4 linked regions of the Homo sapiens genome follow. The protein of the gene in region 1 binds, or shares a complex with, the protein of each later gene. Each region holds a gene or a part of one and is shown in the gene's direction. Other genes may lie near its edges.

Region 1 (5,676 bases):
GGCCAGACTCTGAGTCCGAGGGAGGTGCTGAGACTCCAGCAGCACATGGGGACCTGCTCTTTGAGGGACTCGGGGCAGAACGGGAAGGCAGGAAGGGCTGGCTCTATCCGTGTGGTTTCAGGGAGTCCTGTGCCACAGCCCAAGTCCCCGGGGGCCACATCACCTTGAAGGCTATGTGGGTGGTGCCCTGGGGCTCGCCCCCTGCAAGCACAGATGCAGGGTGGTGCCAGGCCCGGCATGAGCCCCCCTGTGCCTGGCCCGCAGGAGGAACAAGGTGCTGAACCACTTCAGCATCATGCAGCAGCGGCGGCTCAAGGATCAGGACCAGGACGAGGATGAGGAGGAGAAGGAGAAACGTGGCCGCAGGAAGGCGAGCGAGCTGCGCATCCACGACCTGGAGGACGACCTGGAGATGTCGTCCGATGCCAGTGATGCCAGTGGTGAGGAGGGTGAGTACGGGCGCCTGGGCATTAGGTCACAGAGGTGCCTGCTCAGGCAGTGCCAGTGAAGGCAAAGTCTACCATCGCTCACAGTGGCCCTAGAATGAGAGGCAAGTGGGGCCGGGCACAGTGGCTCACGCCTGTCATCCCAGCACTTTGAGAGGCTGAGGCAGGCAGATCACCTGAGATCAGGAGTTTGAGACCAGCCTGGCCAACACAGTGAGACCGTGTCTCTACTGAAAACACAAAAATTAGCTGGGCATGGTGGTGCATGCCTCTAGTGCCAGCTACTCGGGAGACTGAGGCAGGAGAATTGCTTGAACCCGTGAGATAGAGGTTGTGTTGAGCCGAGATCACGCCACTGGACTCCAGCCTGGGCAACAGAGAGAGACTCCGTCTCAGAGAAAAAAGAATGAGAGTCAGGCGAGGCCGCCTGGAGGAGCAGTGATGTCAGTCAGGAGGCAAGGCCAGAGCCCGGGAGAGCTGAGCCATGGCCCTTCTTTTTTTTTTTTTTTTTTTTGAGACAGGATCTCTCTCTCTCTCACATGGGCTGGAGTGTAGTGGTACAATCACAGCTTACTGCAGCCTTGACCTCCGAGGGTCAAACGATCCTCCCACCTCAGCCTCCTGAGTAGCTGGGACTACAGGCGTGCACCACCACACCCGGCTAATTTTTTTTTTTTTTTTTGGAGACAGAGTCTTGCTCTGTTGCCCAGGCTGGAGTGCAATGGCGCAATCTCGGCTCACTGCAACCTCTGCCTCCCAGGTTCAAGTGATTCTCCTGCCTCAGCCTCCCAAGTAGCTGGGACTACAGGCATGCACCACCATGCTGGCTAATTTTTGTATTTTTAGTAGAGATGGGGTTTCACCATGTTGGCCAGACTGGTCTCAAACTCCCGACCTCAGGTAATCTGCCTGTCTCGGCCTCCTAAAGTGCTGGGATTACAGGCGTGAGCCACCACGCCCGGCCTAATTTTTGTGTTTTTTGTAGAGACTGGGGTCTCACTCACTGTGTTGCCCAGGATGGTCTGAAACTCCTGGGCTCAAGCCATCCTCCCGCCTCAGCCTGCCAAAGTGCTGGGATGACAGGCATGAGCCACTGCACCTGGCCTGGCTGTGGCCTTTACGGGGGTTCCTATGAGAAACTGCAACTCTAGGTTGACCAGTTTCAATAACTCCTGTGCGCTCCGGGCTGTAGGGGCTGTGTCCCTGGTTATCAGGTGCCTCGCCCGGGTGGTCTGGGAGAGGGGGAGTGGTCTGTGAGCGCTAGAGAAGGTGGGTGGGGGTGTGGGGTCTGCCGGGAGTTTGTTTAGGAGAGCTGAGCTCCTGGGCTGGCCCTGGAGGTGTAGTCTCCCCAGTCAGTGAGGCCCCCCAGGATGTCAAAACTGCACAAAATGTGAAAAACACAATAAATACCCACTGCCTTCCTCCTCACTTTCCCTCCTTTCCTTCCTTTCCTCCCTTCCCAGGGGGCAGAGTCCCCAAGGCCAAGAAGAAGGCGCCGCTGGCCAAGGGCGGCAGGAAAAAGAAGAAGAAGAAGGGTTCAGACGACGAGGCCTTCGAGGACAGCGATGATGGGGACTTCGAGGGCCAAGAGGTGGACTACATGTCAGACGGCTCCAGGTGAGGCCGACGGGAGGCGCCTGCGAGACCCCATGCAGCCTCGCGAGCGCGCGCTCATCCTTTGCCATCCCCGTCTTACAGTAGCTCCCAAGAAGAGCCTGAGAGCAAGGCCAAGGCGCCGCAGCAGGAGGAGGGGCCCAAGGGTAGGCGATGGCTGGGCGGGCCGGGGAGATGGGGGCGGTGCTTCCCTGCTCTTGCTCATACCCTGCCCCTCCCAGGTGTCGATGAGCAGAGCGACAGTAGTGAGGAGAGTGAGGAGGAGAAGCCGCCTGAGGAGGACAAGGAGGAGGAGGAGGAGAAGAAGGCACCCACCCCGCAGGAGAAGAAGCGCAGGAAAGGTGCGGCGCATGTGGCCCCCATATTGGAGGCTTGGGTCGGGCCCTGGCGCCCTGCCACCTCCTCCCCTCTCCCCTGCAGGCCTCCCTCATCTGCAGTGGAGGCACCAGTGGGCACCGGGTCCCGGGGTTGCTCTGGCCCTGACCCCTTTCCTGTGCCCCGCAGACAGCAGCGAGGAGTCGGACAGCTCAGAGGAGAGCGACATTGACAGCGAGGCCTCCTCAGCCCTCTTCATGGCGGTAAGGCCCAGCCCGGTGGCGGGGGAGGCCTGGGCGTCTGTTTGCAGACTCACCCACCTCCCAACCCTGACCTCTGCAGAAGAAGAAGACGCCACCCAAGAGAGAGCGGAAGCCGTCGGGAGGGAGCTCAAGGGGCAACAGCCGCCCAGGCACGCCCAGCGCAGAGGGTGGCAGCACCTCCTCCACCCTGCGGGCGGCTGCCAGCAAACTCGAGCAAGGTGAGTGCCCGTGGCCTCCCCGCTCCCCACAGCCACAGCCACAGCCTCCTGACCTCTGTTGGGGCTCAGGACAGAGAGGGGATGGAGATGCGGGTGGAGGCCTGTCTCTCCCTGATCCCCTTGAACCCTAATCCTGGCACTGCCCAGCCTGGGGTCCTGCCCAGGGGTTCTGCCTCCTGCCTGCAAGACTCAGCCCTGACCCCACTCCCACAGGGAAGCGGGTGAGCGAGATGCCTGCAGCCAAGCGGTTGCGGCTGGACACGGGACCCCAGAGCCTGTCTGGGAAGTCGACACCCCAGCCACCATCAGGCAAGACAACACCCAACAGCGGGTAAGTTGACGAGGACAGCAGGGGGCAGGGCAAGGGCTACTGGGGACAATCTCACTGATGCCACCTTCCCCGTCCTCCCATCCTCAGCGACGTGCAGGTGACTGAGGATGCCGTGCGCCGCTACCTGACACGGAAGCCCATGACCACTAAGGACCTGCTGAAAAAGTTCCAGACCAAGAAGACAGGGCTGAGCAGCGAGCAGACAGTGAACGTGTTGGCCCAGATCCTCAAGCGACTCAACCCCGAGCGCAAGATGATCAACGACAAAATGCACTTCTCCCTCAAGGAGTGAGGCTTGGTCCAATACATGGCTCTGCCCCCCAGAACTTAAGGCTCTCACTGCCCCTTCGCCATCCTAGAGTGAGGCTCTGTCCAATACATGGCTCTGCCCTCCAGAACTTCAGGCTCTCAGTGACCCTTCGACATCCTGCTTGCTCCCTGACTCCCAGGGCCCCGTAGTTAGCAATTCTGGAAAAGTTAAGCCATCTCCTCCTCTGGCCCTTCCTTCTGGAATCTTCAGATGCCTGTTAGGCCTTCTTATTGTCCTCCTCCTCCTGGCTCGGCCTCCCTCACACTGACCAAGGGCCTGTGCTGCCCACTGGGTAACTTCTACAGTTCTCCCTTCCACTTCCCTAAGTCTCTCTTCAGCTGTGACTTATCCACCACATAGCCCAGTAAGTCTTCAGTTTTGGCTGGGCATGATGGTGAGCGCCTGCAGTCCCAGCTACTTGGGAGGCTAAGCCCAGTTCAAGGCTGCAGTGAACTATGATGGTGCCACTGCATTCCAGCCTGGGTGACAGAATGAAATCCTGGCACAAAAAAAAAAAAAAAGTAGCCAGGCATGGTGGCGGGAGCCTGTTGTCCCAGCTGTTCCGTAGGCTGAGGCACGAGATTCACTTGAACCTGGGAGGTGGAGGTTGCTGTGAGCTGACACCACGCCACTGCACTCCAGCCTGGGTGACAGTGAGACTCTGTCTCAATAAATAAAAAATAATAATAAATTGCTCAGATTTCTTTGTTTCCTTTTTAGATCTGCTACTCTGTTTGGATAATGTCTTATTCCTTATGTTTTGGTCCCATCTTTCATGGTTTTATTTTTATTTATATTTTAGGTTTTGAGACAGGGTCTTGCTCTGTTCACCAGGCTGGATTGCAGTGTCCACCGTCTTGGCTCCCTGCAACCTCCACCTCTTGGGCTGAAGCGATCCTCCCACCTTAACCTTTCAAGTAGTGCACACCACCACGCCCAGCTAATTTTTTAATTTTTTGTAGAGGTGAGGTCTCACTGTATTGCCCAGGTCAGTCTTGAACTCATGGGCTCAAGCAATCCTCCCACCTCAGCCTCCTGAGTAGCTGGGACCACAGGCGTGTACCATTAAATGCCTGGCTAATGTGTTTTGTTTTTGTTTTTGTTTGAGACAGAGTTTCACTCTTGTTGCCCAGGCTAGAGTGCAGTGGTACAATCTCGGCTTACTGCGACCTCTGGTTCCTGGGCTCAAGCAGTTCTCCTGCCTCAGCCTCCCGAGTAGCTGGGATTACGGGCGCCCGCCACCGCGCCTGGCTAATTTTTGTATTTTTAGTAGAGACGGTGTTTCAGCATGTTGGCCAGGCTGGTCTCGAACTCCTGGCCATAGGTGATCTGCCTGCCTCGTCCTCCCAAAGTACTGGGATTACAGGCGTGAGCCACTGCACCCACCCACGCCTGGCTGATGTTTTTATTTTACTCATCCTGACTGAGGTCTGACAATCCTAGAAGCTGAAGTTCCCGGGCATCCTTTTGTTTCTTCTGACTCCCCTTAGTGATAGATTTTCTTGTGATTTGGGATTGGATGCTCATGGCCAGCTGGGGGCTCTGTGGGAATCCGGGGTGGCCTACTTTGCAGGCAGTCCTTCCAGATGGTTCAGCCTTGGCTTTCGCTAGCTACCCAGGAGCGCCAGCCCCAGCCCATTTTGTGTGTGGTTCTCAGCTTGCAGGTGGCCACCAAAGCCAACCCCCCCCACTGCCCCGATTGTGGGTCCCTATGTTTGAGGTTCCCGGTGATGTTTCGGGGGGCTTCTCCCTTCTTACAAGCTCGGTCATGCATATATTTGATCTGGCGTTGCCAGGCATTCTGTAAGGGAGGGCTTTTCCAGTTCCTGGAAATGGAACTGGAAAATGTGGCTGGAAACATTAATATGGCTGGAAATGGAATTTGCCTGCAGCCACTACTTTTGAACCCATCTTCCGGGCAATCCCTTCTGTCTTGCCGGTGGTTGGAAACTTGCAGGTGGAAGTCTTCCCCACCCAGTTCTGCAGCCCTTGGCTGCCGAGCAGGAATGCCTGAGATGTCTGGCTAATTCCTCGGAATGTCCCAGTTCAGGCCAACCTCCCTCCCCCTTCTCCCACCAGGCCTTCTTGGGCAGCAGGGAGGCAGCTCTGGAGGGAGCCGCTGCCTCAGCAGTTTCGCCCCAGCCACCCCCACTGCCTGGGCCTTCATGTAAGGAGGCTG
Region 2 (8,583 bases), on another chromosome or scaffold:
CCATCTCTCTAAGAATAGACTTCAGGTAAGTCTAAATACTGGGCCTGCCAGTAAGATTCCCTAGGAAATTGACCTTAACATTTGCTTTCTCAGTAAGCCATTAGAGATTTAGTGGAACTGTTACTAGCATCATGACAACAAATCTAGAATGTCTGGAATGATTGGAAGGGTCAGAAGATTATAAAAAATCTCTGTGAGTATGACCAGGCATGGTGGCTCACGCCTATAATCTCAGCTCTTTGGGAGGCCAAGGCGAGCAGATTGCTTGAGCCCAGGAGTTCGAGACCAGCCTGGGCAACATAGTGAGATCTTGTCACTATTTCTTAAATTAAAAAAAAAAATAAAAAAATAAAGAAACTCTCTGTGAGTATGGCAAAGGGAAGTTCTTGAAGGATCTGATAGAAGCTTCAGGTCAATTAGGCAATATGCCAAGAGCAAATCCTGGAGGAGAAGACAAAGTATGTGTAGATCCTTGTGTACAGAATGACCAAATGAAGTTTTATCTGTATTTTCAGGGAATAGTTTGTGACTTTTTGGCCAGTTTCTTAAAAGGTAAAGGCTCTAGATTGAACACTAAACCTGGTAGAGAGGAAATGTGTTAGGTAGAAGAATGAAATCGTTGCACATGTTTTCTTTTCTTTTCTTTCTTTTTGTCCATTATGATTTTTCCCATCATAGAACCTAAGGTGAAATGAGAAAATAGAAATGGCTAAACAGAAAAGGATTGTCAATTGGCGTAATGGAAGAAGGAAGGACATTTCAAGAAGTGTGGAGAGTTGGGATAACTACTAAGACCTTCGGGCGTTGCCGGTTCTTTTTCTTTATGTAGGATTGGACAGATGGAAAGTTAGGCTTTTCTTCTTTGGGGGATTGCATCTATGTATCTCACTGTTGTAAATGAATTTATGTTTTGTATGTTATTTAAGAATTTATGTTTTATATGTTGCAGAAAATTTTGTATTTTCTATTTTTATAAGGAAAAAGTTCCATATAAAAATAGTTTAGTAATGGTTTTGCTATTATAAAGGATAATCTTTGATTACTAAAGAAGTTGCTTGTATGAAACTCATCGCTTAATAATAACTGCTGATTAAGGAATTACTATAGAAAGTTCATTGGAAGATAAAAAAAAGAAACAAAATCTTCAGTACTCTGATGTGGCAAAAATGAGGTTTGATACTTTAAAATTTTGTTTTTGTTATTGTTTCACTTGGGTTAGAATTACAGATTTGTTGTATTTCTGTGTCTGTATCAGTTTTTAAAATGGAATAACTTTATAAAGAGATTAATAAAACTGTTGTATTCATCTGTCCAGAGTTATTTTTCACTTAGAAATCTTTAATGTTCTTTGCCTTAGTTATGGGAAAACAAACTAATGCAGTCCAGGGCAGTAGATGGATTTCATTCAGAAGAGCAGCAGCTTCTACTGCAAGTTCAACAGCAGCATCAACCCCAGCAGCAGCAGCATCACCACCATCACCATCATCAGCAAGCTCAGCCTCAGCAGACAGTACCTCAGCAAGCGCAGACCCAGCAGGTTCTTATTCCTGCATCACAGCAAGGTGAGACTGGACTTGTTTTCCTACTTATGACTTGGAAATTAAGTTTGTCATTATGAAAGAAGAGAAATATTCTGCATTTTTTGGATCTTGTCTTTTAAGGGGCACATGGAGAACCTAAAAATAAACAAAAACCCCTCTGTTGATTTCGGGCTTTTTCCCCCCTTTCTCTTGGCTGAGGGATGTGTATGTAAATGTATATAAATTTGTATACAATGTAGGTTGTATCTGTAGAGTAATGGTAGACAAGTAATTTACTAATTGAAAGCCTAAGATATTCAGAGAAGTTATATTAATATTTTGTTTTGAAAAGGCTATATAGTGATGGATTTCCTAAGTTAAATCTAAAAGGTTTATTTACTAAGGGATTTATTATTTTATATGGTACAATAGTTATTTGCTTTCTCTATAAAACATGTTCTTTCAAAGACATGTTTCAGATTAGTTTTTAAAATATATCTTACATTCTGGAGTTTTTTGTATACTTTGGCAATCTGAAAATTCAGCTCCATAGGAATTTATGTAAGCCTAAATGGACTGAATTAGATTTATTTTAAGTTAAGAGTGGATATATAACATATCTTAATTTATATTACTTGGATTAAAGCTAAGAAAAAGCAAATATTCATAGACTGTGTCCATAGTGCCTTGTACTCTGCAAGTCATTTTATAGATACTGTTTCACTGGCATCTTATAAGGGCTTTGTAAAATAGCCCTTGGCTCAGTTTTACAGCTGAGGAAAATCTGAGCCCAGAAAAGGCTAAGAAACTTGATCTGTATTTTCTCTCATGACAAACATCTATTCAGTTATAAAACTTCCTGAGCATTCTAATTCAGTGCATCTGCTTTTATGGGAGAGGACACTAGAAGTAAATGAAAAGTTCATTTTAATATCATTTAGTTACTCATTTGCCTCATTTGACAGTATATATATGTGTCTTAAAATTGGTAATGACACACAGTAGAAGAGTATTTGGGTTATTTTACTGTTGATATCTAGTGGTACTTTTCATACCTAATTTTAATGTGTACTTTGTATCAAATAATTTTATCCTTTTATTCTTTTTTGATGACTGTTCTTCCTGTTGCCTTCAGACCTGGCATTAGGATTTTAGGTCATCATAAATTAAAATTTGATTTTCTTCACTCAGAGAATATTAGGATAATGGAGTTATCTGTTCTCTGAAATTTGCGGAATCAAACATGTAATTCCTTTTACGCTTAAGTAACATTGCCATTATTTCTGATTTGTATTTTTTCCGACTTTTGCCGGTTTACCACTCTTCAGGCAACCTGGTGGTCCCCTGCTTTCAGGAGGCCACCATATTGATGCCGAACTTATTTGGACACCTGATCAGCATAGCACATACAGCCCAGAACTCCTGGGCTCAAGTGATCCTCCCACCTTAGCCTCCTGAGTTGCTGGGACTACAGGCATGCATCCCTGCACCCGGCTGATTTGTATTTTTTAAACAGCTGATGAAAGTGGCATGAGTCTGTCAGCTGTCATATTTGGAAGAAAAGGACTATGTAGATTTCAAAAACTAGTCACAACTTTTTGAGCTTACTTTTATTGGATTAGTAACTCATTGTAACAGTGGTATCATTGTATCAGTAAAACAGTTAACCTTGAGTTAAGACAAAATTATGTTTGAAAATGTCCAGTTTACTTAAGAATGCATAGAACTATTTATGTTTAGATGTTAAGGTAACTCACTACTTCATGTTCCTAAATTCCCTTGCATCCTTAGGAATTGCCACTTAATTTTTTTTTTTTGATATGGAACCTTGTCACCCATGTTAGAGTGCAGTGGCGTGATCTCAGCTTACTGCAACCTCCAGTTCCGGAGTTCAAGTGATTCTCATGCCTCAGCCTGACACCCAACTAATTTTTTTGTATTTTTAGTAGAGATGGGGTTTCACCATATTGGCCAGTCTGGTCTTGAACTCCTGACCTCAAGTGATCCACCCGCCTTGGCCTCCCAAAGTGCTGTAATTACAGGTGTGAGCCACCACGCCTGGGCTTAAATATTTTTTAATGTTTTCTAGTATAGGGTGGGTATATCACAGCTGTTATTTGCCATATACATTTATAATGTCCTGAGATGAAATGATTGAAAGCATTTGAGTGCAGAAAACATGAAAAACATGAAAAAAGTTTTCATCATTGTATGTAAAGTGTTCTTGTGATTATAAAATAGCCTCATGGTTCCTTGTTTGCATGTTCGCTTGTTTTTTTGTAGCCACAGCACCACAAGTTATTGTTCCAGATTCTAAGTTGATACAGCATATGAATGCATCAAACATGGTAAGACTCAGAATGTAGCAGTTTGATTGGCTGTACTTAATTCTAACCCACATTGTAATTATGCCTATATATGTCCTATATTAACTACTTGAAGTTTATTGAAGACTCAAGCAAAACAGCTGTTTTAGTTTCCTGAATATTGGATCTGAAGTTTAGCTTGGTACCTAGACATTAAGGTTCATAAAATTACGGAATTGTTTAAGAATACCAAAAGAATGGTGCTTTGTGAGAGTTATTCCATTCCCTACTATTTCCGAAAAAGTTTTAGGGTACCTACCAAGCTTATAATGCCAAGTATGGTTCTGTTTCAGGAGACCTAGTAATTGCAAGAGGGTGGGAAGGCTAAGAATTGTGAACTTTTAAAAAATGAAGATAGACTGGATAGTTCAGTATAACTATTTTTAAAATCAAGCATTTAAAAATATTACTCTGACTTAACCATAGTATAGTCTAATAAGTCATTATAGTGTGTAAATTACCACAGAATACATTTTAACCAGCTGAGTTATATTAGAATTTTTATATTTCTGAGGACTATCCACTAAACTTTACAAGTCCTCACTCATATTTTCAAATTACATTTCAGACATATAATATTTCTCAACAAATGTAGTATAGGTTAACTGTAAACTTGAAAGAACCTCTTCAGATCCTTAGAAAATCTTTACCTATATCCTTGAAGTTGTTTTTTGTTTTTTTTTTTTTTTTGGATAAAACATTAAAATATAGTCAGATTAGAGTAGTTCAATACTTCCTTATAAATGGTTTTTCTTTATTCTGTTTAAAATATACAGACTGTTGATTTCATTGAGTGGTGACTCAGCTCTTACATTTCATTCTTCAGCCAAAACTTTTATTTAAAGGTGAAAGAATCAATATTTGTAAAAAGATCTTTTAACCTATGTAACTAGTTAGTACTAGAAATGAGATTTTTTTTTCCCTCCGTTCAAGTTTTTTTTTTTTTTTGAAGATGGAGTCTTACCCTGTCACCCAGGCTGGAGTGCAGTGGTGTGATCTTGGCTAACTGCAACCTCCGCCTCCTAGGTTCAAGTGATCCTCCCACCTCAGCCTCCTGAGTAGCTGGGAGTACAGGTGTATGTCACCACACCTGGCTAATTTTTTTGTACTTTTAGTAGAGACAGGGTTTCACCATGTTGGCCAGGCTGGTCGCCCAACTCCTCACCTCAAGCGATCTGCCCACCTCGGCCTCCTGAAGTGTTAGGATTACAGGTGTGAGCCACCACGCCCAGCCTCAAGTTTTTTTTTAAACCAAAAAGCAGTGTATGAAAAGATGAGTTCTACTTTGTGAGTGATACTGAATCACAAAGTTCATTTGTGGTTTATAAGCCAGATAAGAAGGGCTTACCCACTAGACAGATGACTTCCTCCTACACATTACCAGCCTCACAAATTCATACTGTGGCAGAATTGAAAGTTTCTACATGATAGTAGAAATTGCAGTTTTTAAATTCACAAATATCGAGGATCTCTGTTTGTACTTGTAGTTGCAGTTTCTAGAATCTTTTCGTTTACATGAAAATAAAAAATTTCATGCCTGTTATTTCTCACAAGATTTTTTATTGGAAAAAACTCCATTTTAAGTCTAAGGCCCCAATTTTTTTTAACCTCCACCCTTAAAAAAAAAAAAGTCTCACTATATGTTGCTTATTGTAGTTGATGTTATTAAGACTATATCCTAGGGAATAACTCACATTATTTTAAAACAAATTTTGGCAGAGTCTCTTGTGGTAGGCCCCTCTAAAAGAATTTTAAATGTTGTGGAAGAGAATTTTGAATTAGTAAGTTATTTCTGGGATAAAAATTAGTGGTCCATCTCTTACTTACTGGTTAAGTCTCCTTTATTCTAAAGAGCATATGTATTTAAACAAATCATAGGTCAGTTACTCAGGAAAATTGATTTAACATTTCTGTATATTTTACATTTTACTTTGTTGTTTTTAGTCAGTGTTTCCTTCATGTATTTCTGAACATAATCAGTATAGGCTCTGTACCAATAAAAGTGTTTTAGGTTTTTGTGGGTTTGCATTATTCTGATTTAGAAATAGCAAAAATATATTTGTTCTTTCTAATGGCTCTGTTTGCATTAGAAATGAACTAATCATAAAAACGTGAGATAATATAGTAGAAGGCTATTTCAGGGAACTTCTAGAAAACCATTGTTTTCGGTTCTTTTTTATGAAATGATTGGTCTAATGCATTATTTGTGTTTGGGCTGTTTTGTGGAATACAAGAAGAAATTTTAATAGTTATTAAGTATAAGGTGGTTAGTGTATGGTACATGACTCAGCAAATATATGTTATGCAGCTTGAATTTGTGGAGGGTGTGCAGGTAGTTATTGGGTCGTGTATTCTATATGGAAACTACTATGTCAGTTTGCTGGTAGAGGGAGAATTGCTGTCTTTCAAAATATGAATTATAGGCACTTAATATTTCTAAATATTTTTGTTTTTTTCTTTTTAAATATTTCTTAATAGTATGTGGTGGTTAATATTTTCCTTAAACTTAGATAACCTTTAATTTGCTTATATAGCCAAGTTTTATTTTAAATTGGGTAATTGAGTATCCAACTTAAATACGAATCACCCGGGTGGGCTATAGTTAAATTCTGGAGACACAGTGGGAATTTCAGGCCCAAGATGTAGAAATTACTTAGGTTTGTCAAGTGGCAACAAGTGTATTTTCTTGGAAAGCTATGTACCTAGAGCCCAGACTAGACAGTAGTTGAACTATTAACTCAGTTTAATAATTTTCTAAGTTTGTTGACTTCTCTGACACTAGCATTTCCAAAGCAGTTATATTTATTTTTTTAAGCTTTTTCAGATATGGGTAGTTCTAAAACTGTATAGGTTAGATTGAATGTATGAATGGTTGGTAGCTAAAGAAGATTGAAAAGAGAGGGAAAAAACTACCAAAATGTGTAGCTATAGCGGGATACAGGAAAATACTTAAAGTGCAGAATAAAAAACCAGAGAATGGCATAATTCTTTGCGGGAGGACAGGAGGAGAAAACTCTCCAGAACTCTCCAGGAAGTCAAGAATTTGTCCTGGATTTAAAGAAATTCATAATATAATCCCGTCTATATCTTTATAACTTAAGTGTCACATACTAACTTGATTTCAAAATGTTGAAACTAAAGTTTGTGACTATTGCCCAGGCTGGAGTGCAGTGGCACAATCTCGGCTCACTGCAACCTCCACCTTCAGGTTCAAGCCATCCTCCCACCTCACCCTCCCAAGTAGCTGGGACTACAGGTGTGCACCACCCTGCTCAGCTAATTTTTGTATTTTTTGTAGAAATGGGATTTCACCATATTGCCCAGGCTGGTCTCAAACTCCTGAGCTCAAGCGATCTGCCCACGTGGGCCTCCTAAAGTGCTGGGATTACAGGCGTGAGCCAGTCTGCCTGGTGTGACTTTTCTTAAGATTTACAGATTTTTTGTATTAATCTGTTATTAATGCATGTTTCACCTAGAATATAATGCCAGTATGTCCCTTTTTTCTTTGCTAATATGACATCTTAGAAGAATTGTCAGCTGTACTCCCAGTGAAGTCTTCTGATACAGTGTTCTTTATAGATATCTGTTGATTTTAGTAGAAATTTTAAAAGTTAAGAATTCTAAAAAGTAGATAATTATACTTTTATCTCAAGGAAATGGGGATAAGGAAACAGTGGGAAAGGAAGCAATAATGAAATAGCCATTTCATATATTGTACAGCATTGTTAATGTGGGTATTGTCTAAAAATGTGTAGGTTAGATTGAGTATAGGAAGGCTTGGTACCTTAAAGAAGATTGATGGGACAAGAAGGAAAAAAAAACTGCAGTACCTGTGAGATTTACTTAGAGCACCTTCTCTAGGGGAAAAAACCCAATTATATTGTTGTATTTAACTGCTTAAAATAATTTAGTAGGTTGGAGGCTAGGTTGGTCAGTCTTGTACCATTTTATAAAATGGGATTTAGCCTTACTAGATTTTTTAAATTTTGGTATATTCTAAACAAAAAGTTTCATACACTATTAAAATATGCTAGAGAGAAACAGTATTATACATGTATGTGGTTTTGATATTTTTTCTTTGTTTTTTTCAGAGTGCTGCTGCTACAGCTGCTACCTTAGCACTCCCTGCAGGTGTGACTCCTGTTCAGCAGATATTAACAAATTCAGGTAATTAGGAATGATGGAACCATTTTAAAATGTAATTCAGAAAATTGTACTATCTAGCCCTTAGGTTTTGTCTTCTTTGAAAGACAGAAAATACTAATATTTCTTTTACCATTTGGTTTAGGTTATTAAAATAACTTTATTTGAGGGCTGTAACACATATAACTGTAATCGTTGTTGAGGATACAGTAAAGAAGATGAAAATTGTACTTGAACCTTTGATCTGTGCATGATAACCCTATTATTGAAGTATGATTATATAAAAATGCTTACTTAGTTTTTTACTGAACACATTTAACATGCCAAGTGAGTATTAAACTTCTTTGAACTTGTGATATCAAAGTAATTCCTAGAGCATATTAAGAGCAAATTTATTGTATGCTATTATTATACATAGTATCTCTTCATTGACAAAAGACCAATGTCTAGCTCATGTGTTTTGGCATATTGGTGCTTGAAAAATTTATTTACATGGATTTTAAGTGTTCCCTATAATCTTGATTATATAGTTATTATTTATTTTCTATTCTGTG
Region 3 (8,583 bases), on another chromosome or scaffold:
TCACTTAATGCAAAAGAAAACAGAAAAGGGAAGACAGGAACTAAAACTACATGAGGCATGAGAAACAAAGCAGAGTGGCGGTGTGAACGTGAGGGGATTCAGAGCTTTAACTATGAGTGGATGGACAACTGGGTCAGAGGCCATCACCGTAGGAAAGCTGGAGTGTTCCGCTAATATCAGAGAAGACTGAATTTAAACAAAGAATGCTTCTACAGGTAAAGAAGGACGCTTTATAATGATAACGGATGGAATTACGATGCTAAGAGCTGGATCCATCGGGAAGAGTGACAGTTGCTAGCACATGTGCACCGGAAGTGAGAACCAACTCACCAGTGGCAGAAACTGACAAGCAAAGGGAGAGGCGGCCATGGCGAGACCTTGGAGGTTCCCCCGCCACTCAGTCATGGGGGGCGTCGTGGGAGGATGCTGCCCCTGGAGGGGCCACAGACCAGTCCTGAAGCTCTTACAGGAACGCAGGAGACCCTGGAGGGTCTTGAGGAAGAGCAGGCCAGAGGACGCACATCGTGCTTCAGAGTAACGGAGGCTGGTGTGATGACAGTGTGCTGGGCCGTGGAGCAGGAGTGTCCATCCCAGAACAGCCCCATGTCCATGGCCAGCTGGCTCTCAGCAGGGGTACCAGGCCACTCCATGGGAAAGACTTGTGGGTCCTGAGAGTGGGGTGGGGAATCAGAAGGTGCTCCTGGGATTAGGAGGTGTCCCCACGACATGTAAGTTCATGTGAGTTTCAGGCTTTTCCAAAGCAGTTGTAATGACTGTGGCATGGATAATTTTTGTGGGGAAGATGAGTGGTCAGCACACATACGTGTTTGACTGGATTGTGCGTCCCTCCCATGCGCGTTCTGTCCCTGCGTCCCTCCCGTGCGCGTTCTGTCCCTGCGTCCCTCCCGTGCGCGTTCTGTCCCTGCGTCCCTCCCGTGCGCGTTCTGTGCCCGCGTCCCTCCCGTGCGCGTTCTGTGCCCGCGTCCCTCCCGTGCGCGTTCTGTCCCCGCGTCCCTCCCGTGCGCGTTCTGTCCCCGCGTCCCTCCCGTGCGCGTTCTGTCCCCGCGTCCCTCCCGTGCGCGTTCTGTCCCCGCGTCCCTCCCGTGCGCGTTCTGTCCCCGCGTCCCTCCCGTGCGGGTTCTGTCCCCGCGTCCCTCCCGTGCGCGTTCTGTCCCCGCGTCCCTCCCGTGCGCGTTCTGTGCCCGCGTCCCTCCCGTGCGCGTTCTGTGCCCGCGTCCCTCCCGTGCGCGTTCTGTGCCCGCGTCCCTCCCGTGCGCGTTCTGTGCCCGCGTCCCTCCCGTGCGCGTTCTGTGCCCGCGTCCCTCCCGTGCGCGTTCTGTGCCCGCGTCCCTCCCGTGCGCGTTCTGTCCCCGCGTCCCTCCCGTGCGCGTTCTGTCCCCGCGTCCCTCCCGTGCGCGTTCTGTCCCCGCGTCCCTCCCGTGCGCGTTCTGTCCCCGCGTCCCTCCCGTGCGGGTTCTGTCCCCGCGTCCCTCCCGTGCGCGTTCTGTCCCCGCGTCCCTCCCGTGCGCGTTCTGTGCCCGCGTCCCTCCCGTGCGCGTTCTGTGCCCGCGTCCCTCCCGTGCGCGTTCTGTGCCCGCGTCCCTCCCGTGCGCGTTCTGTGCCCGCGTCCCTCCCGTGCGCGTTCTGTGCCCGCGTCCCTCCCGTGCGCGTTCTGTGCCCGCGTCCCTCCCGTGCGCGTTCTGTCCCCGCGTCCCTCCCGTGCGCGTTCTGTCCCCGCGTCCCTCCCGTGCGCGTTCTGTCCCCGCGTCCCTCCCGTGCGCGTTCTGTCCCCGCGTCCCTCCCGTGCGGGTTCTGTCCCCGCGTCCCTCCCGTGCGCGTTCTGACCCCGCGTCCCTCCCGTGCGCGTTCTGTGCCCGCGTCCCTCCCGTGCGCGTTCTGTCCCTGCGTCCCTCCCGTGCGCGTTCTGTCCCCGCGTCCCTCCCGTGCGCGTTCTGACCCTGCGTCCCTCCCATGCGCGTTCTGTCCGTGCGTCCCTCCCATGCGTGTTCTGACTCTGCGGTCTCTTCAGGGTTTGCCACTCGAGGGTGTCGGAGGTGGAGGTTGTGTTCGTTCTCCCTTCACATAGCACGCGGAGTTTTGGTTTGTGAAAGTTTGCTTTTTCGTGTTTTCATAGCTACACAAACTGCATCTCTTGGAAAAGTGAGAGCGTTTTGACAACTGCTGTCACTGTGAACAGGTCAGGAGGCCCTGCCTTGCCCACCCCATACTTAGGGGCTTAAGAAACAAGGTCTCACTCTGTTGCCTGGGCTGGAGTGCAGTGGCACGATCATGGCTCACTGGAAGCTTGAACTCCTGGGCTCAAGGGATCGTCCCGCCTCAACCTTCCAAGTAGGTAGGACCACAGGTGCGCACCACCATGCCTGGCTAATGTTTTTAAAATTTTTTTGTAGAGATGGGGACTTCCTTTGTTGCCCATTGAGACCAGCCTGGCCTCAAACTCCTGGCCTCCAGCGATCCTCCCGCCTCAGCCTCCCAAAGTGCTGGACCTACAGGTGTGAACACCGTGCCCACTGTGCCTACCGTGCCTAGGGGTGTTAAAGTGGTCCTTGGTGCACAGGGCTAAAGGCTCCTGGTCGCGTGACTTGACCGTGTGCTGCCAGCCACTCTGGTGCCTGCAGTTTAGAATTTGGGTACAAAGCTGCTGAATCAAATAGTGTTTTTTAATGATTGCCCAATTTTAAATGAGAGACATTAATTTTTTTCCAGTCCTTTCATACCAATACACGAAGCAGCAATTCTTACCCTAAAATAGGTCACTGAACTTCCCACTTTAAAGAGCCCCGGCCTGGCAGCAGGCTCTCGGAGGGGAGGGTCAGGTGTGGTGAGCGCCCGGCCAGCTCCCTGCTGGGAAGGGCCCCTGCCCCTCTTCCACCTGTAACACACACAGGTTCATTCTAATGCCATGAGATTGCTGAGGAGAGCATGACAATGTTCACACCCAGAGCTGTGGCATCCCCGCTGGGGCCCTGCGGGAACTGGGACTCAGGTGCAGACGCCACGGAGGGAGGGCACCGCTGGCTCTCCCTGGGCCCGGGCCCACTCTCAGCAGCAGACCAGCTCTTGCCGCCTGCTTTCCTTGGCAGAGCCCAGCCCTGTGTTGTAGGTGGTTGGACTGTTGGGTCCCGCTGACGTCATCTGGTGGGTTCCTTCCAGGTCCCCGCGGAGCCCCCCACGCTTGTGTGAGGCTTCACCTGCTTTGGGCAGCCCCAACGCCGCTCTCACGCCACGTTCCACTCCAGGGTGCACTGGGGAAATTATCCGCCATGCGCAGCGCCTCCTGCAGGTGTCCGGTGCGTGCAGACCTGGCCACGCCGGCACGGGTTTTTTAGTGACGTGGCGGCCTCACGGTGAGCAGCACTGGTCTTCCCTTTTGTTCCCGCGGCCACGCTGGCAGTGGCCACGGGAACCCTGTGCCTGTGGATTGTTCCATCCCCTTTGGATTAGATGCTGGTGTGACACAATTGTGCATTTGCCGCACTGACGGATATCTTTCCGGTGCCAAATCGTGTGCACTGTGACAGCCCAGTGTGTTTGGAAAACTGAAATATGGGGGTGGGGTATACATATATATTATTCTGTTTGTATTCTTGCCTTATTCAATGTTGAATTTGAGATAAATGTTAAAGCTGTAAATTTTCCCCAAATTCTATCTGTTAACATTTCTCTATGGAGCTGTGCAGCTGGTTGTATGAACAAAATACAAATATTGCATGTTATGCTGAGGAAGTGAAGCTAGTATCAGTTGCGGACATTTACTAACCATAGTCTGCAGCTGTGTCTAATGTTCGAGGTAATTTTTAATGACTAAAGTCCATTCATCTCGTATTTTTAAATCCCATGCTCCAAACATCGTTTAACTAAGAGCAAAGGTTTTGTGCCACCTTAGTGAGGCGCTCCCTGTACTTCATCACGGAGCGAGACCGAGGGTGCAGCATTCGCAGCACCAGGAGGGACCGCGCAGGGCCTGGGGGGACCCATGGAGGGAGGGCCGCCCCAGCCCGGGCTCTGTGACCCCTCAGGGTGGAAGCCGTTGACCTGGTCCCAGACACTCAGCCTCATGGAAGCCCTGACCCTGTCTCCCGAGTCAGCTACGTTTTTCCAAAGTGCGTGGAGGACGTTTCTCAGCATTCTTACCAGCATCGTGAGGTCCAGGCCCCTGCTGTGAGATGGGGATGGTGGCGCCTGCCCGCAGGTTTCTTGTGAAAATCTAAGGAAGAAGCACTTAGCACAGCCCCAGACCACAGCGTCCCCAGCTGTGGATCCACAAGAAACTGTTCCCAGCGAATGCCATGAGCGCCTGCGGCCGCCTCATCTCACACAACAGCGACAGAGTCATGATCAGAGGCCTTTAGAGTCATCATTATCATGTCTGTGTGTGAGCCGTGACTGCCTGGGAGCCGTGTCTGCCTGGGAGCCGTGACTGCACATGAGCCGTGTCTGTGTGTGAGCCGTTCTGTGTGTTTGCCGTGTCTGTGTGTTTGCCGTGTCTGTGTGTGAGCCGTGTCTGTGTGTGAGCCGTGTTGGTGCATGTGCACAGGGCTCTCCAGCGGGAGCTGAGGTGGTCCCTTCCGTGGGCTCGGTTCAGGTCCTGTGGCACCCTGCCAAGTTATGCTGGCGTTTCTGAAGGTGTGTCCTGCTGTCAACAGCACTCTGGGTGTTTTTGTCGGCCTTGTGAGGGGAACATATTTCTAAACCTCAAACAGAGAGTCACAGCTGGCATTTCCCATTCTTTGCCATCCTCTTGCTGCCATTAGAACTCTGCCACGGATGGCTTCCTCGCTTGATTTTAGAAAGAAAAGAATTGTTGGAACTGGTTCTTGCACCTCTCGCCCTCCCCCTCCTCTCCCTGCTTGCCCCAGGGTCCCGCCTGGCTCTCGTCTGCCCCGTCTTCACTTTCGGTCGGGGCCCCTGCCCCTGCCCCTGCTCTGCTCAGTGCCCCTGATACGTCCAACCCAGCGTCGCTGTGAGGGAGTCAACCACACCTGCCAGCACCCCCGAGTCTGGCCCCACTAGGAGGGGCCAGGGCTCCCTTGAGCAAGGCATCAGCACACAGGCAGGGAGCCGGGCACCAGACTGTGAGGGTCGCGCCCCGTGCACACGAGATCCAGGCCCGCCCCCTCCTGGACTTGGTGACCGTCCCGAGCTCGACCTGAGAGGGCACTTCGGCTCTCCTGTTCACAGTCATGACTGCCCCCTCCCCGAGGTCAGCGCCATGCACTGCTCTGGGGGCCTGAAACACCGCCTCTGTTCGCAAGGGTCTCCTGTCCCGTCCACCTGCCAGTGGGTTGAGCTCTTCCAGGGGTTCGGGACACCCCTCACGGCAGCACCTTCACGTTTACGAGAACTGTCTCTGTCTTGTTTTGTTTCAAGTTCTCAAAACGGAGTGAGGTGGAGGAAGCCTAATGGGAGGATGGGAGCCGGGTTTTCCCGGAACAGCCGTCAGCGTGTATGCGGAGGAAAAGAGATGACTGATGAATTTGTTAATTGCCAAAAGCTTGTTGCTGTAGCAACCGGAGGCCAGACTCGTGGCCCTGACAGCGTCGTTAGTGTCAGCAGAGACTGGAAATAAAGGAAACTCGTGTATGATACGCCTGGCGTCCTCAAAGCAAACAGCAGGCGGTGCCCAGCCCAACACAGGCACGGGCACAAGATCTGCAGATGAGGCATGGAGGGGAAGCGGGCGGTGCCCAGCCCAACACAGGCACGGGCACAAGATCTGCAGACGAGGTGTGCAGAGGGGAAGCAGGTGCACAGAAAAGGTGCGCGGAGATTTTTTTTTTTTAAGACAGGGTCTTGCTCTGTCGCCCAGGCTGGAGTGCAGTGTTGCGGTCATGGCCCAGGCTCACTGCAGCCTCCATTTCCTGGGCTCAGAGGATCCTTTTTCCTCAGCCTCCCAAATAGCTGGGACTCCAGGCATGCACCGACACTCCCAGCTAATTTGCAACCCCTCACTCTCATGTAGCAATTAAAAGTAAGCCTTTATTTCTCAGTAGAAAATATTCATTCCAGTTGACATAAAAATAAATTCGTTTAAAACTTGGACGGCAGGTATTAGGGCGTGCACTTCCCGCTACTCTGCCTTTTTTTTTCCCCCCCGAGACAGAGTCTCGCTCTGTCACCCAGGCTGGAGTGCAGTGGCGTGATCTCAGCTCACTGCAACTTCCGCCTCCCGGGTTCAAACAATTCTCGTGCCCCGGCTTCCCGAGTAGCTGGGACTACAGGTGCCCACCACCACACCTGGCTAATTTTTTGCTTTTTTTTTTTTTTTTTTTTTTTAATGTGGAGATGGGGTTTCACCATGTTGGTCAGGCTGGTCTTGAACTCCTGACCTCAGGTGATCCGCCTGACTTGGCCTCCCAAAGTGCTGGTATTACAGGTGTGAGCCGCCACGCCCTGCCTACTCCGCTTTTAAATGATGGGATGCATTGCTTTTTAAGAAAGGATCTCATGGATCCAGGGGTCCCAGTATGTGATGAAAGATGGCAGTTCCCATCTTACAGAGCGGGCTGGACTCAGAGGCAGGCCGGGGAGGGAGGGGCTGGGTACAGAGGGCAGGCTTGGGAGGGAGGGGCTGGGCACAGAGGACAGGCTGGGGAAGGAGGCACTGGGCGCCGAGGGCAGGTCAGGGAGGGAGGGAGGCTGGGCACACAGAGGGCAGGTCAGGGAGGGAGGGAGGCTGGGCACACAGAGGGCAGGCCAGGGAGGGAGGGGCTGGACTCAGAGGCAGGCCGGGGAGGGAGGGGCTGGGTACAGAGGGCAGGCTTGGGAGGGAGGGGCTGGGCACAGAAGACAGGCTAGGGAGGGAGGGGCTGGGCGCAGAGGACAGGCCGGGGAGGGAGGGAGGCTGGGCACACAGGGCAGGCCAGGGAAGGAGGGGCTGGGCACACAGAGGGCAGGCCAGGGAGGGAGGGGCTGGGCACAGAGGCAGGTCCAGGAGGGAAGGAGGGAGCGGGGGAGGGGCTGTCATCCTACGGCCCAGTGCCTGCCACCTGGACAGGACTTGGAGTTCTGGGGCCCTTGTGTTTCTCTCATGCGGTATTTCCTGGACCACGAACAGTTGGGTTCTCTGAACGAGCTTGTCGTGACTGATCGGCTGTGTGTGCCAGCCCACGGGGTTCTCTTGTCTTCTGTTGGTTCCATCTGATCAGCTGATTTTATTCCTTTTGTCTCTTATAAATGAACTGTGATTCTTCTAATACCAGCAAGAATGGTTTCAAGTTATTTCTGCGCTATAGTTTGTGTATATTAGCCTCGAGTGCATGTGTGTTACATGCGTGCTGTGTGTGCGTGCAGGTGTATCACATTACCGTGCTATAGTTTGTGTGTGAGCCTCGAGTGCATGTGTGTTATATGCCTGCTGTGTGTGTGTGTGGCTGTATCACACATAATGTGTCACATAGGTGTGTATGTTAGCTACATTGTATCTACGTTAGCTAAGAAAATATTCTTAGGGTACTCACATATGGTGACTGTCCCTAGTTTCTCTCAGTGACTTTTCGGGATTGTAACTGAAGGCTAGTATGGCTCAGTTGCCCCTAATCAGGGTAAAATCAAAACAGGCTGTGCACATTTAACCAGGCTTCCACCTCTAAGGTTGTAGCTGAGGTTCCTTGGCGCAGTGGGACGTCCCAGCACGGCACCAGGAGGGAGGGTGTCTGGCAGGACATCAGGTGGTTGGAATTTCAGGGCTCTGGGGATCTCCTGGGTGTGCCCCGATCAAGTCGGCTCACGTCACAGAAACCAGGTGCACCTGCAGCGGCTCCTAAGGAAAACCTAGTGGCACTGGCTGGTTATGCAGAGGCTCGTAAGGAAAGCCTAGTGGCACCGGCTGGTTATGCAGAGGCTCCTAAGGAAAGCCTAGTGGCACCGGCTGGTTATGCAGAGGCTCCTAAGGAAAGCCTAGTGGCACCGGCTGGTTATGCAGAGGCTCCTAAGGAAAGCCTAGTGGCACCCGCTGGTTATGCAGAGGCTCGTAAGGAAAGCCTAGTGGCACCGGCTGGTTATGCAGAGGCTCGTAAGGAAAGCCTAGTGGCACCCGCTGGTTATGCAGAGGCTCCTAAGGAAAGCCTAGTGGCACCGGCTGGTTATGCAGAGGCTCGTAAGGAAAGCCTAGTGGCACCGGCTGGTTATGCAGAGGCTCCTAAGGAAAGCCTAGTGGCACCGGCTGGTTATGCAGAGGCTCGTAAGGAAAGCCTAGTGGCACCGGCTGGTTATGCAGAGGCTCGTAAGGAAAGCCTAGTGGCACCGGCTGGTTATGCAGAGGCTCGTAAGGAAAGCCTAGTGGCACCGGCTGGTTATGCAGAGGCTCCTAAGGAAAGCCTAGTGGCACCCGCTGGTTATGCAGAGGCTCCTAAGGAAAGCCTAGTGGCACCGGCTGGTTATGCAGAGGCTCGTAAGGAAAGCCTAGTGGCACCGGCTGGTTATGCAGAGGCTCCTAAGGAAAGCCTAGTGGCACCGGCTGGTTATGCAGAGGCTCGTAAGGAAAGCCTAGTGGCACCGGCTGGTTATGCAGAGGCTCGTAAGGAAAGCCTAGTGGCACCGGCTGGTTATGCAGAGGCTCCT
Region 4 (8,583 bases), on another chromosome or scaffold:
AGGAGTTTGAGACCAGCCTATGCAACATAGCCAGACCCTGTCTATCTCTTTTTTTTTTAAAGAAAGAAAAAAAGAGAAATCTGGCAAAAAGTCAGCTTTTCATTGTGCCTGAGGTGATGGTGACCTTTGATTCCATTTGTATTTAAACATCTGTATTCCCTGCCATAATATCTTTTGCCACCTATAGCTAGAATGAAGCATTGTCCTGGAGCCATTTAAGAGTAAACTTTTGTAAACACAAAAAATAAAACAAATTGGCTGTAGAAGACTAAACTTTACTGAGACAGTTACATCTTCTGTGATGTTTGGGTGTTAAACACCAAGAGATATTTTATTAGGAAACAATAACCAGGTAGATGTTCTGTGGAGTGTGCCTATATTCTACATTCTCCCGGTAGAAAAAATATTTTATCTTAGGTGAAAAGAAGTTGTTTTCAACATATGTGGTAGATTGCTCAAGGATAAAATACTCTATTGTGAACTGTCATAGCATTTATCATTTGTTACAAAATAAATTATTTGATTTTTAAGTTTAAATTGACTGTAGATACTTTGGCTATTGAGAAATGAATTTTGATTTTTTTTTACTTTTTAATATCAAGTGATCTTGTGAATGTGATATTAGTTAATATCACAAGTAACTTCATAAGATGACTTCAGGTAAAATAAACAGAGTAGAGATCATAAATATGAAATATTTATATAGTTTAGGTGTTTAAGCACCATTCTAATGATTTTGGGTAAAGTAGCTATAGTTCAGCTTCCTGGGGTAATGAAACTTATCTATAGTTTAGAAGCTATTCATCTTAAATTGCCTATAAAAAACCATGGCTATGTATATTACAGGCAATGCCATGTTTTTCTTACAATATCAATGGCTAATCCACATGGTTGTGAGAAATTTCTTTCCCATTATGTGACAGTCTCTACTGAAATAAATTGCCCCAACTGTTATTTAGGTCATACCTTACACATGTGTGATTGTCTGCTGTGTTTTCTACCATAGGACCTAACTTCTAATTTTGGTGGCCATACTTGACTGGATCAGGGTGGGGCCAATTTGTTGGCCTGTCACTGATGTGCGAGGTGACCTGATGAAGCCAAAATGGGAGGCTGATGATTAGTTGGACTCTGCATATTGTCTTAGAAAATTGATGTGAAGATGGGGGAGTCAGTAGTTGGGGAGTAGAAGCTAAGAAGGTCTCACAGATATAAGATGACAGAGGTCACAAGATATAGGAGTGGAGACGTGGAGGTGTGGTGGGGCACTTCCTACTGCTGAAGGGTGATGGGATAATCTTGAGGGTTGTGCTACATCCTCCAGCCTCTGTGATGCCCAGCTTTGCAGCTGTCCCTGGATGGTAATAGGGAGTGATCTGTTGAGATCCTCTTGCACGTGTATCTACTTGTCTCTGTATGTCTTTCCCCACCCCTCACCTGAAAAGTATCTGTTCCTTATAAATATGATGTCTGCTTTTTAGATTGCAGCTCTCTCAGCCATGCTGCATTTTTATCACCAGTCTTTTGCTGAGTATTTTTATGTAAAGACTTATTCTTCTTATCCTACCTTTAAGAATTCAAAATAGAACTAATGATCTATAACCTAAAGTTGGCATTCTCATGCATTATTTTAGTCATTAATATCACTACCCTCCGTCCTATTCAAATGAAAGTTCTTATTGTTATCTTTGACTTTTCTTTAGTTTTCTCTCCTGACATATTTGTCAAGAAGTACTTCAAAGAGGTGGAATAAAATTTGTCCATAAAGGGCATAAAGTTTTTTTTTTTCTTTGAGATAGGGTTTCGCTGTCTCCTAGGCTGGAGTGCAATGATGCAATCATGACTCAATGCAGCCTCAAACTCCTGGGCTCAAGTGATCCCCCTACCTCATCCTCTTGAATATGTGGGACTATAGGCACATGCCACCATGCCTGGCTAATTTTTTTCTTATTTGTTGAAATGAGGTCTCATTGCGTTGCCCAGGCTGAACTCAAGCAATCCTCCTGCCTTGGCCTCCCAGGAGCTGGGATCCTTATAGTTCTTATATTGTGCTTTAAGTATTTTACCCCCAAATATAAGCTGCTTTTCCCCAAATAATAAGTTCTACAAAGAAAATATGCCCGGTTTCATCCTTTTTAAGATACCTCATAGTGTCTTGTTTAGTGGTTGACATATAATGGTTGGTATTTTATGACTGTTTCTTGAATAATGAAAATGGGGAAATAATGAAAATGGGGAATTATGCTAGAAATTATCACTGAGTTGCAACTGACTGAACTCAAATATTTTCCCAGTTCCTATTTTGACGAGAAAGGCTTGGTTAGACAACAGCTGGATTCTTTTGATGAGTTTATTCAGATGTCTGTTCAAAGAATTGTGGAAGACGCTCCTCCTATAGACCTACAGGCTGAAGCTCAGCATGCTAGTGGAGAAGTTGAAGAACCGGTAAGATAGTTCTAATAGTTACACAGGTACAAGAAGCGTATTGGTTTGAAATTTTAGCCCTTCTCTTACCTGGCTTAAAGGTTAAAAAAAGTCAGTTGGAGCTTTTAGCAAAGTACTTACAGCACCGTCAATCACTTTCTGATTTATTTTCTCTAATGAAGAGGTGTGTTTTTTTGCAAGTTATCCCATCCTTATTCACATAGTAGGTATTGAATAGCTGGGAAGAGAGGACTCTGAAATATGAACAAATAAGAGAAGTGAGCCAGAGATGGTCACATTGCTTTAGATAGATAACCCCGCTTTTTTCTCTCACAGTGTAAAAATAATAAAAAATGTTTGAAGGAATTTTCATCTGATTTTATATATTGCATGAAGTACATTATTATAACCATATGAGATAAGAAAGGAAAATCACCCAAACATAGCAGCTATCTTTACTAAGTTTCTTGTAGCTTTTGCTCACATATATGCAGGTTTTTTAGCATTGTTAAAATCATACTAAGGGTATAATTTTATAATTTGGTTTTACATGAGTGATTATAAGAAGGATGTAGTCCAAAATAATGACTGTCCCAGTTTTAGAGAAGTTGAGAGGCAGCTGTTGGAACATATTGGACTTTGAGAGACAGGGAAAACTGAGAAACAAAGTGAGGTAGGGAAAGCCCCCAAAATAGAGCTAGACACAGGGAGAGTTCATTGTTTCTAGCCTGATCAGTTTCTCTTCTGTGTAGCTTATCTCCTAAGTGCTGGTCTGTTATTTCCATTTTAGTTGGACATGCTGTACAGAATTTTGCTGTTAAGAATGAAAGTGATTGGCTCTTCTAGGGCTGTGCTGGAAAGGGGGACATTAAGTTTCTTTTTTATTCTTGGGTCATTTTTTTCTTTTTTACAGGGTCTATAGGTGCCCACCACCATGCTTGGCTAATTTTTTTGTATTTTTAGTAGAGATGGTGTTTCACATGTTGGCCAGGCCGATCTCCAACTCCTGACCTCAAGTGATCCACCTGCTTCAGCCTCCCAGAGTGCTGAGATTATAGGCATGAGCCACTGCACCTGGCTTGTTGGGTCATTTTTTCTTCATGGTCTTTGTATAACAAGCCAGATAACAATATAACATAGCAAATTGAACGTGCCAGTAACAGAAGTACTAAAAGAGGAGTAGATCTCTAACACCTAGTTATCAGAGCTTAGTAGAAAAGATGGAAGAGACTTAAATTTACTATGAAGAACTCTCTTAGAAGAGAAAAGGTGCTTAGTCATTTCAGCAAGGAAATATTTGGTGTGGCCGGTGCGATGGCTCATGCCTATAATTTTAGCACTTTGGGAGGCCGAGGCGGGCAGATCACCTGAGCTCAAGAGTTTGAGACCAGCCTGGCCAATATGGTGAAACCCCGTCTCTACTAGTAAAGTACAAAAATTAGCCGGGTGTGGTGCCAGGCACCTGTAGTCCCAGCTACTAGGGAGGCTGAGACAGGAGAATTGCTTGAACGTGGGAGACGGAGGTTGCAGCGAGCTGAGATCACGCCACTGCACTCCAGCCTGGGCGAGAGGTCGAGACTCTGTCTCAAAAAAAAAAAAAAAAAAAAAAAAAAAAGAAAAGAAAATACTTGGTGTATTTAGGCTGGGGACCACAATGATCAGTATGTGATTTTGGCTTATCTATTTTTTTTTTTTTTTTTGAGACAGAGTCTCGCCCTGTTGGCCAGGCTGGAATGCAGTGGCGCGATCTCGGCTCACTGCAGGCTCCGCCTTCCGGGTTCACGCCATTCTCCTGCCTCAGCTTTTTGAGTTGCTGGGACTACAGGCGCCTGCCACCACGCCCGGCTATTATTTTTTTGTATTTTTAGTAGAGACAGGGTTTTGCCGTATTAGCCAGGATGGTCTCGATCTCCTGACCTCATGATCTGCCCTCCTTGGCCTCCCAAAGTGCTGGGATTACAGGGCTTCTCTATTTTTAATAGGCATTAGGAAGATAAGATGGAACCCGATTGTTGAAAGCTTTGAATGTCATTGGATGTTATGAGGAATTACTGAGAGACTGTCAAAGAATATACATAAAGCATTATTTTAGAAAAGTTACTTTGGAAAGTGATGCTTGCTTGGAATAGAAAGAGGCTAGAGGAGGCCAGATGTGGTGGCTCATGCCTGTAATCCCAGCACTTTGGGAGGCCTAGGCAGGCAGATCTCTTGAGGCCAGGAGTTTGAGACCATCCTGGCCAGCTTGGTGAAGCCCCATCTCTACCAAAAAATACAAAAATTAGCCGGGCCTGGTGGTGCGCCTGTAGTCCCAGCTACTTGGGAGGCTGAGGCAGGAGAATCACTTGAACCCAGGAGGTGGAGGCTGCAGTGAGCCGAGATCACGCCACTGCACTCCATCCTGGGTGACAGAGTGAGACCCTGTCTCAAACAAAACAAAACAAAATGAAACAAAACAAAAGAGACTGGAGGAGATAAAAATCTTAGAATAGCCTATGATTAAGATAATAATGACCTAGACTAGATGATGGCACAGATAAGGAGTAGAGGATTGGCTTCCCTTTGGTTCGTTATCACCACCGTTCTCTTTGCCCTTTATCCAGCCCAGCTTGGGAGACTTGAGTGTCAATAATTAATCATTAGTAAAACGTCTGCTTACTCCTGTTTTCTTCTCTGAGACTTGATTTAGAGAAAAGTACACTATCCATTTATCTCTAGAAAGTTGTCCTCATGGATCTTGTTTTATTAGGCAGCAAGTGAATGTTTAATTGAAAAATTTCTTTTTTTTTCTATGAACTAAGCTATATTCCAGCCAGAGTTGGAAATTCTCAGCCCTTTATATAGAATGATTAGGATATTTTGTGTGTTTTTTAAAATAAAAAAATCTTTTTCTTTTGTTAACTCTACTCCTTTGACAGATTAATTTGTATATTTAACTGAAGAGAGGTTTATTTTTTAAAATGTTCTATTGATTAGATTAGAGCATAGTTCTAGTTGTCTGGATTTGTTATCTTTGTTCTCTGGTCACTTTGTATTTTTGATGATGCTTACCAAGGAGAGGGCACAAGAAACTATGTAGATCATTAATGTAAATCCATTTTAACTGTTTCATATAAACTCAGAGCACATGATGTGTACAGTCTTTACTTTTAGTATATTAAGTCTCTTTTTGTCTTCTGCCTTAAGAAAGCAATTAGCAGATCCTTCTGTAGTTGATAAGTGTGTGATGATTGGGTGTGAGATGTGCCTTCCTTAAACCTTGTTACAAACCTTGTTAGCACATTACCTGTCTAATGTGAAAAAAAATTTTTAAGAAAAGAGGAAAAAAGAAAGTGATTTGGTTTAAAACTTAACGTCTATGCAATATGGATATTGACTTTGGGAAGTCCCCATTTCAGTAAAATGGATTAATTTTGCCAGTTTGTAGAGTTGCTTGTACTTAAAATGTTAATGTCAATTAAAATGGAATCACTAAAACTTTTATGGAAAAAATTATTTACCCTTTTCATGTTTTTTTGTTTAATTTCAGCCACGATATTTGCTGAAGTTTGAACAAATTTATCTTTCCAAGCCTACCCATTGGGAAAGAGATGGTGCTCCTTCACCAATGATGCCCAATGAAGCTAGATTAAGGAATCTCACGTAAGAAAGAATTTTTCCTTGTCAGCAGTAGATACTGAAATAGAATTTTGAAAATGTAATTTTAACCACTTGAGGATTTGTTTTAACAGATACCCTATTGCTTAACTGTGATCTACTTTTATTTTCAAAGGTATTCTGCTCCGCTTTATGTTGATATAACAAAAACAGTCATTAAAGAAGGTGAAGAACAACTTCAGACTCAGCATCAGAAAACTTTTATAGGAAAAATTCCAATTATGTTGCGGTCAACTTACTGCCTTTTGAATGGCTTGACAGATCGTGATCTTTGTGAGTTAAATGAATGCCCTTTGGATCCTGGTGGCTATTTCATTATTAATGGATCAGAAAAGGTATAGTAACATTATTTTAAAAAATTACAAAATGGTAGTTAAAATTTAGTTTAAAGTTGAAATGAAAAAAAAAAAAAAAAGAAAGAAAGATTTTCCTGCAGGATAACCTGGCACTGACAGTTGACTTGTTTAGGGTATGACAGCTAAACTTATATAAACCAAAGCTTTATTTAGCTGTATATAACATGCACTGGGAATTTGGTCAGTTTTGGAGTTTATGTATTTCTATGAAGCATTTATGCAAAATGGAGTTTGTAAAGTTGAAGAATTAAATATTTCAGTGAGCCTATATGGTCAGATTAAATTAAGATGCAGATTTTACTCTCTTTTCTCTTCAGTGATGTTTTGGATTTTATGGCTGTAACTTTCTTATTGTCCAAATAGGTTCTGATTGCCCAAGAGAAAATGGCAACAAACACAGTTTATGTGTTTGCCAAAAAGGATTCTAAATATGCCTACACAGGAGAGTGTAGATCATGTCTTGAGAATTCTTCCCGACCCACCAGTACTATATGGGTTAGCATGCTGGCAAGAGGAGGACAGGTATGGACTGGATATGATGCTATTTGGGTTTATTCCTTTGTGCTTTGTTTTAAAATTTACTAGACTGCCTTCTTTGTCCATAGAAGCTTTTCTGGAGCATATTGTTGTTATATATCGTATTGTTTACCTATCGCTGTGTAACAAATTACTCCTCTAGCAACATTTATCATCTCACGGCTTCTGTGAGTCAGGAATCTGGGTGTAGCTTAGCTGGGTCTTTTGGCCAAGCAACTCTCACAAGGCTGCAATCAGATGTTTCCCTGGGCTGCCGTAATCTCAAGAGTCATTCCCATGGTTGTCTGCAGGATTTAGTTCTTCATTGGCTGTTGGACTGAGTCCCAGGTCTTTGCTCGCTGTTGGCTGGAAGCCTTTCTTTGTTCCTTGCCATGTGGGCCTCTGCGTATAGCAGCTGACAGCAGCATAGCAGCTTGCTTCTTCAGAGAGAGTAAGCAAAAAGAGCCATAGAGAGTACGAGCAAGGTGGAAATCAGTCTTTTATAACTTAAAAGTGGTAGCAACATCCTGTCATTTTTGCCATGTTCTTTTTGTTGGTTGCAAGTCAGTATGTCCAGCTCACACTAAAGAGGGTATTACAAGGGCAATAGTAGGAGGCAGGAATCATTGGGTACCAGCTTAGAAGCTGCAGACCACTGGTATAGTTATAAGCATAGGTTGCTTATAATAATGGAACCTGGTAGTAGCTAGCAGTTCTTAAATATTTGCTGTATGCCAATTCTGTTACTCAGATTGCTTGATTTAATTTTTACAGCTATCTTGGAAAACCTCTATTTCAGTTCATGTGTGTGTGTGTGTGTGTGTGTGTGTGTGTGTATGTATATGTGTGTGTGTGTGTGTATATATATATATATATTTTTTTTTTTTTTTTTTTTTGAGACGGAGTCTTGCCCTGTCACCAGGCTGCAGTGCAGTGGCATGATCTCGGCTCAGTGCAAGCTCCGCCTCCTGGGTTCACGCCATTCTCCTGCCTCAGCCTCCCGAGTAGCTGGGACTACAGGCGCCCGCCACCGCGCCCGGCTAATTTTTTTTTTGTATTTTTAGTAGAGATGGGGTTTCACCGTGTTAGCCAGGATGGTCTCGATCTCCTGACCTCGTGATCCGCCCGCCTCGGCCTCCAAAAGTGCTGGGATTACAGGCGTGAGCCACTGTGCCCGGCCTTCAATTTTATTTAATAATTATGCATGTGTGGGATGCAATGTGATATTTTGATACGTGTATACAATGTGTAATGATCAAATTAGGGTACTTAGCATACCTGTCACCTCAAGAATGTTTTTCATAATATTTTATTTGTAAGATAAGCATTCTTCCCATGTGCACAACATTGCTGGGTATTGTTAAGAGATCATGAAAACACACAATCCTTATTGAGAAGGTGGCCAGGTGTGGTGGCTCATGCCTGTAATCCCAGCACTTTGGGAGGCTGAGGTGGGTGGATTGCTTGAGCCCGGGATGTGAGACCAGCCTGGGCAACATGGCAAAACACTTTCTCTAGCAAAACAACAACAACAAAAACCCAAAAATTAGCTGGATGTGGTGGCAGGCACCTGTAGTCCCGGTTACTCGGGAAGCTGAGGTGGGAAGATGGCTTGAGTGCTGAGGTTGCAGTG

Evidence for each region.
Region 2: GTF2F1 (region 1) and GTF2A1 share a complex: the UniProt entries of both Homo sapiens proteins name them as parts of the TBP-based Pol II pre-initiation complex.
Region 3: the proteins of GTF2F1 (region 1) and CTDP1 are in contact, whole or in part, in an NMR structure (PDB 1ONV), measured with the Homo sapiens proteins. Residues at the interface, in NP_002087.2 of Homo sapiens: Thr470 (codon at 3,333), Lys471 (codon at 3,336), Leu474 (codon at 3,345), Gln478 (codon at 3,357), Ser486 (codon at 3,381), Thr489 (codon at 3,390), Val490 (codon at 3,393), Leu493 (codon at 3,402), Ala494 (codon at 3,405), Leu497 (codon at 3,414), Lys498 (codon at 3,417), Leu500 (codon at 3,423), Asn501 (codon at 3,426), Pro502 (codon at 3,429), Arg504 (codon at 3,435), Met511 (codon at 3,456), Phe513 (codon at 3,462); in NP_004706.3 of Homo sapiens: Ala946, Asp947, Met949, Ala950, Lys951, Ala952, Leu953, Glu954, Glu956, Leu957, Asp959, Leu960, Met961.
Region 4: GTF2F1 (region 1) and POLR2B share a complex: the UniProt entries of both Homo sapiens proteins name them as parts of the TBP-based Pol II pre-initiation complex.

What each region holds. Positions count from the first base shown.
Region 1 is NC_000019.10:6,378,084-6,383,759, reverse strand, and holds the end of GTF2F1 (general transcription factor IIF subunit 1), read left to right. Parts: intron 1-264; coding exon 265-449; intron 450-1,909; coding exon 1,910-2,063; intron 2,064-2,144; coding exon 2,145-2,206; intron 2,207-2,281; coding exon 2,282-2,401; intron 2,402-2,564; coding exon 2,565-2,638; intron 2,639-2,717; coding exon 2,718-2,856; intron 2,857-3,069; coding exon 3,070-3,187; intron 3,188-3,274; coding exon 3,275-3,479; 3' UTR 3,480-4,188; downstream 4,189-5,676. UniProt on the Homo sapiens protein: TFIIF is a general transcription initiation factor that binds to RNA polymerase II and helps to recruit it to the initiation complex in collaboration with TFIIB. It promotes transcription elongation.
Region 2 is NC_000014.9:81,196,879-81,205,461, reverse strand, and holds part of GTF2A1 (transcription initiation factor IIA subunit 1), read left to right. Parts: intron 1-1,357; coding exon 1,358-1,562; intron 1,563-2,627; exon of another isoform or gene 2,628-2,767; intron 2,768-3,803; coding exon 3,804-3,868; intron 3,869-7,977; coding exon 7,978-8,053; intron 8,054-8,583. UniProt on the Homo sapiens protein: TFIIA is a component of the transcription machinery of RNA polymerase II and plays an important role in transcriptional activation. TFIIA in a complex with TBP mediates transcriptional activity.
Region 3 is NC_000018.10:79,744,395-79,752,977, forward strand, and holds part of CTDP1 (RNA polymerase II subunit A C-terminal domain phosphatase), read left to right. Parts: intron 1-8,583. UniProt on the Homo sapiens protein: Processively dephosphorylates 'Ser-2' and 'Ser-5' of the heptad repeats YSPTSPS in the C-terminal domain of the largest RNA polymerase II subunit. This promotes the activity of RNA polymerase II.
Region 4 is NC_000004.12:56,988,454-56,997,036, forward strand, and holds part of POLR2B (DNA-directed RNA polymerase II subunit RPB2), read left to right. Parts: intron 1-2,294; coding exon 2,295-2,445; intron 2,446-5,621; exon of another isoform or gene 5,622-5,717; intron 5,718-5,950; coding exon 5,951-6,063; intron 6,064-6,193; coding exon 6,194-6,413; intron 6,414-6,797; coding exon 6,798-6,956; intron 6,957-8,583. UniProt on the Homo sapiens protein: Catalytic core component of RNA polymerase II (Pol II), a DNA-dependent RNA polymerase which synthesizes mRNA precursors and many functional non-coding RNAs using the four ribonucleoside triphosphates as substrates.